2 linked regions of the Homo sapiens genome follow. The protein of the gene in region 1 purifies or fractionates together with the protein of each later gene. This does not show direct contact. Each region holds a gene or a part of one and is shown in the gene's direction. Other genes may lie near its edges.

The links. Proteins that work in one complex are often made in the same cells at the same time.
Region 2: the proteins of COLGALT2 (region 1) and COL6A2 purify together in Homo sapiens (affinity purification with mass spectrometry; 2 studies listed by BioGRID and IntAct, with this or other methods). This does not show direct contact.

The regions. Positions count from the first base shown.
Region 1 is NC_000001.11:183,947,229-183,950,728, reverse strand, and holds part of COLGALT2 (procollagen galactosyltransferase 2), read left to right. Parts: intron 1-3,500. UniProt on the Homo sapiens protein: Beta-galactosyltransferase that transfers beta-galactose to hydroxylysine residues of collagen.
Region 2 is NC_000021.9:46,129,112-46,133,348, forward strand, and holds the end of COL6A2 (collagen alpha-2(VI) chain isoform 2C2 precursor), read left to right. Parts: exon of another isoform or gene 1-84; coding exon of another isoform or gene 85-380; exon of another isoform or gene 381-690; intron 691-2,842; coding exon 2,843-3,441; 3' UTR 3,442-3,737; downstream 3,738-4,237. UniProt on the Homo sapiens protein: Collagen VI acts as a cell-binding protein.

The DNA.
Region 1 (3,500 bases):
GGTTTTCAGCCTTCTGTAGTGTAACAGAAGGAATGTGTTCAGAATTGTGTTCAGAGCTGAATTAGAGCATAAAGTGCTGAAACTTGGTCAATCTGAAGAAAATAGATGGAAAATGCATAAAGGTGTACATTTCCTGTTGCATGAGATGCCTGCCACAATCTGCCTGGACCGATCATAGTGGCCACTTTTCCTGGAAATATGGCAGGAAAGTAACACAGGGAACCTAGTTAGATCCCTTCTTTTTTTTTTTTTTTATTTTGTTCAGCTTTGCCCTTTTATTTGACACCCTAAACTATTTCAAGGCATAGATTTTTATAAAATGTGCCTTTCCATGTTATATGTTGGTTTAGAATATCAGTAGCTTTGTTTTCTATTTGCATAACTCCAACTAAGGAGTATGGCTAGCAGCTGTTGAAGTTTTTATGACTCCCTTAGAGAATCTCATCAGTGTTTCCCAAAGTGTGACCTGGACACTCACATCAGAGTCCCCACGGATGGTTAAGGGGACAGCTCCCTCAGTCCCATCTCAGACCTGCTGAATTATGCTCTCTGAGGCTGGACCCAGGATCTGCATTTAAGAAGCCTCAAGGTGATTCTTAGACAGGATTGCCCCATAAAATACTGGATAGCCAGTTAAATTTGTCCCAAACATCACATGGGGCTTGGTTATACTAAAAAATTATCCATTATTTATCTGAAACTTAAATTTGACTGAGTGTTTTGTGTTTTTCACTTCCTAAATCTGTCAGCCCTATTCTTGGGTGCAGTAGAGTTTAGGAACCACTGCTTCAAATACCTCCAAGAACACCAGTCCCATTCATAGACCACATGGACCAGGGAAACTAGTTGAGTAGTGAGAGTTCTTTATATATCCTGGATGCAAGTCCTTTATCAGATATGTAATTGTCAAATATTTTCTTTAACTTTATGCATTATTGATTGTCACAATTTCATGATGGTATACATTGAAGCAAAAGAGTTTTTCATTTTGATGAAATCCAATTTATTTTTTGTTCTTGTTGCTAGTAATTTTAGTGTCATACCTAAGAATCCATTGTCAATTTCAAAGCCATGAAGATTTACTTCATGAAATTTTCTTCTGAGAGTTCTACAGTTTTATCTATTACATTTAGGTATTTGATCTATGTTGAGTAAATTTTTGTATATGGCATGAGGCAGGGATCCATATTCATTCTTTTGCACATGGTTATCCATTTGTCCCTTCACCATTTGTTAAAAAGACTTTCGTTTCCCTCGTAGAATTGTCTTGGCACCATTGTAAAAAGCCAGTTGCCCATAAATGTAAGGATTTATTTCTGAACTCTCTATTTTATTTGATTGATCTATATGTCTATCCTTATGCCAGTACTATACCGTCTTGATGACTGTAGCTTTGTATTTAAGAAGTATGAGTCCTTCAATTTTGTTATTCTTTTTCGAGTTTGTCTCAGCTATTCTGGGTCCCTTACTTTTTCCATATGAATTTTAGAATTAGCTTGTCAAGTTCCACAAATAAAGAAAACGGCAGCTGGGATTTTGATAGGAATTGCATTGAGTCTGTAGATCAACTGGGAGAATATTTCCGTGTTAACAATATGAAGTCTTCTGATTCGTAATCATGGAATGTCTTTTTATTATTTAGATCTTCTTTAGTTCTTTGAATGATGTTTTGTCATTTTCAGTATACAAGTCTTGCATTTATTTTGTTAAATATACTCCTAAGTATTTTACTCTTTTGATGCTATGGTACATGGAACTATTTCCTTAGTTCTATTTTCAGATTGTTCATTGCTAAATGAATAAGAATACAATTGATTTTTGTATATTGATCCTGTATCCTGCAACCTTGCTGAACCCTTTTTATCAGTTCTAATAGTACTTTTTCCTTTGTGTGTGTATATTCCTTAGGATCTTCTACATACAAGACCATGTCACATGCAAGTAGAGATAGTGTTATATGTTCCTTTCAAACCTGGATACCATTTATTTCTTCTTCATGTCCAACTACCCTTGCTGGATCATCAAGTACAATGTTGAATAGAACTGTTGAGTGCAGTTTCTTGATTTGTTCCTGATCTTAGAGGGAAAGCATTCAGTCCGTCACTGCTAAGTATGATGTTAATTGTGGGTTTTTCACAGATGGCCTTTACTGGGTTGAGGAAGGTCCCTTTTAGTCCTATTTTGTTGAGTATTTTTATCATAAAAGGGTATTGGATTTTGTCAAATGGTTTGTCCGTGTCTATTAAGATGAACATGTGACTTTTGCCTGTTAATATGGTACGTTACTTTGATTGGTTTTCACATGTTAAACCAAACTTGCAACCCTGGGATAATCCTGGGACCCATTTGGTCATGCTGTATAATTCCTTTTATAAATTGCTGGATTCTCTTGCTAGTATTTGCTTGAAGATTTCCACATCTATATTAATAAGTGATATTGGTCTGCAGTTTTCTTATAATGTTTTTGGTTTTGTATCAAAATAATATTGGCTTCATAAAATCAGCTGGGATGTGTTCCCTCCTCCTCTTTTTTTTTGGAAGTTTGTGAAAGATTCGTGTTAACAATTTTTAAACATTTGGCAGAAACCCCTAGTGAAGCCATCTGGTTCTAGGCTTTTCTTTATGGAAATTTTTTTTATTACTAATTAAACTTCTTTTCTTGTTATTTATTTACTTTCTATTTCTTCTTGAGTCAATTTTGGTAGTTTGTACCTTCCTATCAATTTGTCCATTTCATCTAGGTTATCTAATTTGTTGCCATACAATTGTTCATAGTATTATCATATAATCTTTTTTACTTTCATAAGGTCAGTAGGAGTGACCCCTCTTTCATTCTTGACTTTAATAGTTTGAGTTTACTTTTTTTTAATTCATCAGTTTAGGCAAATAATTGTCAATTTTGTTGATCTTTTCAGAGGACTGACTTTTGGTTTTGTTGATTTTTCTCTATTGTTTTTCTATTCTCTAGTTCATTTATTTGTACTGTAACCTTTATTATTTTCTTCCTCCTGTTTGCTTTGGGTTTAATTTTCTCTTTATCTAGTTTCTTAAGATGGATGGGAGGATTATTATTTGAGATATTCTATTTTACTAGAGACATTTGCAGCTGTAACTATATCTCCAAGTACTATGTTAAGTGTATCGCATAAGTTTTGGTATGCTGTGTTTTCATTCATCTCAAAATATTTTCTAATTTCCCTTGCAATTTCTTCTTTGACCCATTGGTTAGGAGTGTATTGTTTAATTCCACATTTCTGAATTTCCCAAGTTTCCTTTGGTTATTGATTTTTAATTTCAAACCATTGAGGTTGGAGAACATACCTTGTGTGATTTCAATCCTTTTAAGTATACTGACACTTAATTTATGACCTATATGGTCTTTATGGTCTAAAAAATGGTATTTCTTAGAGAATGTTCTATGCACACTTGAAAGTGTGTATTTGGCTATTGTTGGGTGGAATGTTCTATAGATGTCTGCTAGGTCTGATTATTTTAAGATA
Region 2 (4,237 bases), on another chromosome or scaffold:
CCTCGCTGAGCGGCTGCCCGAGGAGGAGCTCTAGGCCGACGCCCACCGCAGGCCTTACAGTCTTCTCTGGACGCTCCCTTGCAGATGCACCGTGGCCTGGCGGCGAGCCCCCGGTCACCTTCCTCCGCACGGAAGAGGGGCCGGACGCCACCTTCCCCAGGACCATTCCCCTGATCCAACAGTTGCTAAACGCCACGGAGCTCACGCAGGACCCGGCCGCCTACTCCCAGCTGGTGGCCGTGCTGGTCTACACCGCCGAGCGGGCCAAGTTCGCCACCGGGGTAGAGCGGCAGGACTGGATGGAGCTGTTCATTGACACCTTTAAGCTGGTGCACAGGGACATCGTGGGGGACCCCGAGACCGCGCTGGCCCTCTGCTAAAGCCCGGGCACCCGCCCAGCCGGGCTGGGCCCTCCCTGCCACACTAGCTTCCCAGGGCTGCCCCCGACAGGCTGGCTCTCAGTGGAGGCCAGAGATCTGGAATCGGGGTCAGCGGGGCTACAGTCCTTCCAGGGGCTCTGGGGCAGCTCCCAGCCTCTTCCCATGCTGGTGGCCACCGTGTCCCTTGCTGCGGCTGCATCTTCCAGTCTCTCCTCCGTCTTCCTGTGGCCGCTCTCTTTATAAGAACCCTGGTCATTGAATTTAAGGCCCACCCCAAGTCCAGAATGACCTCGCAAGACCCTTAACTCACTCCCGTCTGCAGAGTCCTTCTTTGCTGCATCAGGTCACCCTCACAGGCTCCAGGGTTTGGGTGTGGAAGTCTTTGGAGGCCCTTACTTAGCGGCCCAGCTGGGCTGCCGTGCGTCTGGGATGGGGCTGAGGGAGGGTGCTGCCCAGGTGCTGGAGGATGTTCCAGCACCAGGTTCCAGCGGAGCCTCGGAAACAGGCCCCAGAGGCTGGTGAGCCTCGCTGGGTGTGGGCACTAATCCCGTGCATGGTGACTCGTGGGCGCTCACGGCCCACCTGGTGGCAGGTGAAGGCTTCCGGTTGGGCAGCAGATAGTCCTGGGGGAAGCTGGCAGTCCTGGCACCATGACGTATCTGGGCTGGTGTCATGCACAGTAGGGCGAATGGCCACAGCTGCCTGCCAGCAGCCCTGATCCCGGGGTGTCTGCACCCTTCCAGCCCAACCTCTGGGTCTCCAAAAGCACAGTCGGGGGAGCATCCACCAGGCACAACCTCTGCGGTCCTCAGAGGACTGAGCAGAGAATCCCAGGGTCCACAATGTTGGGGAGCGGCAGGGATCACCATCCAAAGGGAGCGGCCCCCACGGCGAGCTGACCCCGACGTTCTGACTGCAGGAGCCCTCATCCAGGCTGGGCTCCTGCCGGGCACGGCTGTGACCATTTCTCAGGGCCAGGTTCTCGTCCCCACACCCACTGCACAGGGCAGGCCAGGCTGGTCTTCCCACTGTGGGGATGAAGGATCCTCCACAGGAGGAGGAGAGCAGAGTCCACAGACATCCCAACAGCCTCAGCCTCCCTGTGCCTGGCCGGCCCCCACAGCTTCCCCGTCTCCTCCAGGCCCCACAGACACTGATGAATGGACAGAGACCCCCAAAACCAGCTGCCCCTTGCATGTCTGTCTCCATATGTTTGGTGACAGCAGTGAAAATGTTATTAGTTTTGAGGGGGTTTGGGAAGCCCAGCGGTACCTGAGGAGTTTCTGGACATTTAAGCCGGTTCCTAGGTGTGGCCTTAACAGGGAGGCTGCCCTTCCTTTCACTGAATGAGCTGCGTCACTCATAAGCTCACTGAGGGAACCCCATCTGCCAGCTCGTGCGTGCTCAGACGGCGTCCATGTCTCAAGCGTTCTGTGAAGGCTGCGGTGCAGCGTGAGGTCACCCTGCTGTGTTCAGAGCTTTGCTCACTGCCTGCGGGGCTGGACCGTTGCACCTCCAGGGCCCCCAGAAACCGAGTTTCGGGTCAGGGTCCTCTGTGTGCATTCCTGGGGGTCCATGTACCAGCTGTGACGACGTCCAGGGGTTGGGCTGAGAAGCAGACACCCTTGGGGAAACTGGCTCTGTCCCTCCCCTCCCCCATCCCAGGAGCTGAGGTCTTGGTGAGGCCACAGGGCCAGGTCCACGCAAGGACTGTCCGTGTCCTGTCCTGTGGTCTCTGGCCCCACGTGACACCCACACGTGTGGTAGGCAGCCTGGCCTGGGTTGTGGCTATGGCCAGGCCCCCAAGCTGTCCCCGATGCCCAGGGCTGGTGACCACCCAGGCAGGTGGGGGCCCCACTTGGTAACAGAGTCATAGGGCAGAACCCACCTGGGCTGCCACAGAAGGTCTGGCTGCCCCTGTGCCCACTGCTCCCCACCATGGCCAATCAGAAGAGTCAGGGGCTCCTGGTCTTTCCGGGAGGGACGTGGCCCAGCCAGCTCTAGGTGTTCTGAGCAGCTCTGGGACCCAGCGATTGAGGGGTCAGGCTGGGGGTGTCAGAGCCAGGGTCCTCCTTAAGTACCTCCCACACTACACAGACAGTGGCCCTTTTGTGGGCAGCAAATTCTTGAGCCATGAAAGGATGCTTTGGGCCCCTTCCCTCCCAGGAGGGCAGCCTGTGCAGGGATGGTGCTCAGCAGGTGGACAGGGCCTGGGGCCTGTGTCAGGGTCTCAGGCCTGGGAGCACCAGCAGAGGAGATGGCGGCTCCCAGCAGTGCCGCCTGAAAGTGTCTTGGGCTAAGGACCCACACCCAGGGCTGCCCTGCAGAAACGCCCCCGCAGAGCCCAGTGGTCTGTGAGGTTGCAGGCAGGGTGCGAATGGAAGGGCACAGGTGCGGGGCTGGCACCTGCCCGGTCCTGCCCACCTCCCCTCCGCCCAGCCCGCACCTGCGTCTCCCCACAGAGCTGTCCGTGGCACAGTGCACGCAGCGGCCCGTGGACATCGTCTTCCTGCTGGACGGCTCCGAGCGGCTGGGTGAGCAGAACTTCCACAAGGCCCGGCGCTTCGTGGAGCAGGTGGCGCGGCGGCTGACGCTGGCCCGGAGGGACGACGACCCTCTCAACGCACGCGTGGCGCTGCTGCAGTTTGGTGGCCCCGGCGAGCAGCAGGTGGCCTTCCCGCTGAGCCACAACCTCACGGCCATCCACGAGGCGCTGGAGACCACACAATACCTGAACTCCTTCTCGCACGTGGGCGCAGGCGTGGTGCACGCCATCAATGCCATCGTGCGCAGCCCGCGTGGCGGGGCCCGGAGGCACGCAGAGCTGTCCTTCGTGTTCCTCACGGACGGCGTCACGGGCAACGACAGTCTGCACGAGTCGGCGCACTCCATGCGCAAGCAGAACGTGGTACCCACCGTGCTGGCCTTGGGCAGCGACGTGGACATGGACGTGCTCACCACGCTCAGCCTGGGTGACCGCGCCGCCGTGTTCCACGAGAAGGACTATGACAGCCTGGCGCAACCCGGCTTCTTCGACCGCTTCATCCGCTGGATCTGCTAGCGCCGCCGCCCGGGCCCCGCAGTCGAGGGTCGTGAGCCCACCCCGTCCATGGTGCTAAGCGGGCCCGGGTCCCACACGGCCAGCACCGCTGCTCACTCGGACGACGCCCTGGGCCTGCACCTCTCCAGCTCCTCCCACGGGGTCCCCGTAGCCCCGGCCCCCGCCCAGCCCCAGGTCTCCCCAGGCCCTCCGCAGGCTGCCCGGCCTCCCTCCCCCTGCAGCCATCCCAAGGCTCCTGACCTACCTGGCCCCTGAGCTCTGGAGCAAGCCCTGACCCAATAAAGGCTTTGAACCCATTGCGTGCCTGCTTGCGAGCTTCTGTGCGCAGGAGAGACCTCAAAGGTGTCTTGTGGCCAGGAGGGAAACACTGCAGCTGTCGCTCGCCCACCAGGGTCAATGGCTCCCCCGGGCCCAGCCCTGACCTCCTAGGACATCAACTGCAGGTGCTGGCTGACCCCGCCTGTGCAGACCCCACAGCCTTGATCAGCAAACTCTCCCTCCAGCCCCAGCCAGGCCCAAAGTGCTCTAAGAAGTGTCACCATGGCTGAGGGTCTTCTGTGGGTGGACGCATGATTAACACTAGACGGGGAGACAGCAGGTGCTGAGCCTGTTGTGTTCTGTGTGGAGATCTCAGTGAGTTTTTGCTGTTCAGACCCCAGGGTCCTTCAGGCTCAGCTCAGGAGCCCCACAGTGAACCAGAGGCTCCACAGGCAGGTGCTGACCTGACAGGAGTGGGCTTGGTGGCCATCACAGGGCACCACAGACACAGCTTGAACAACTACCAGTATCGGCCACA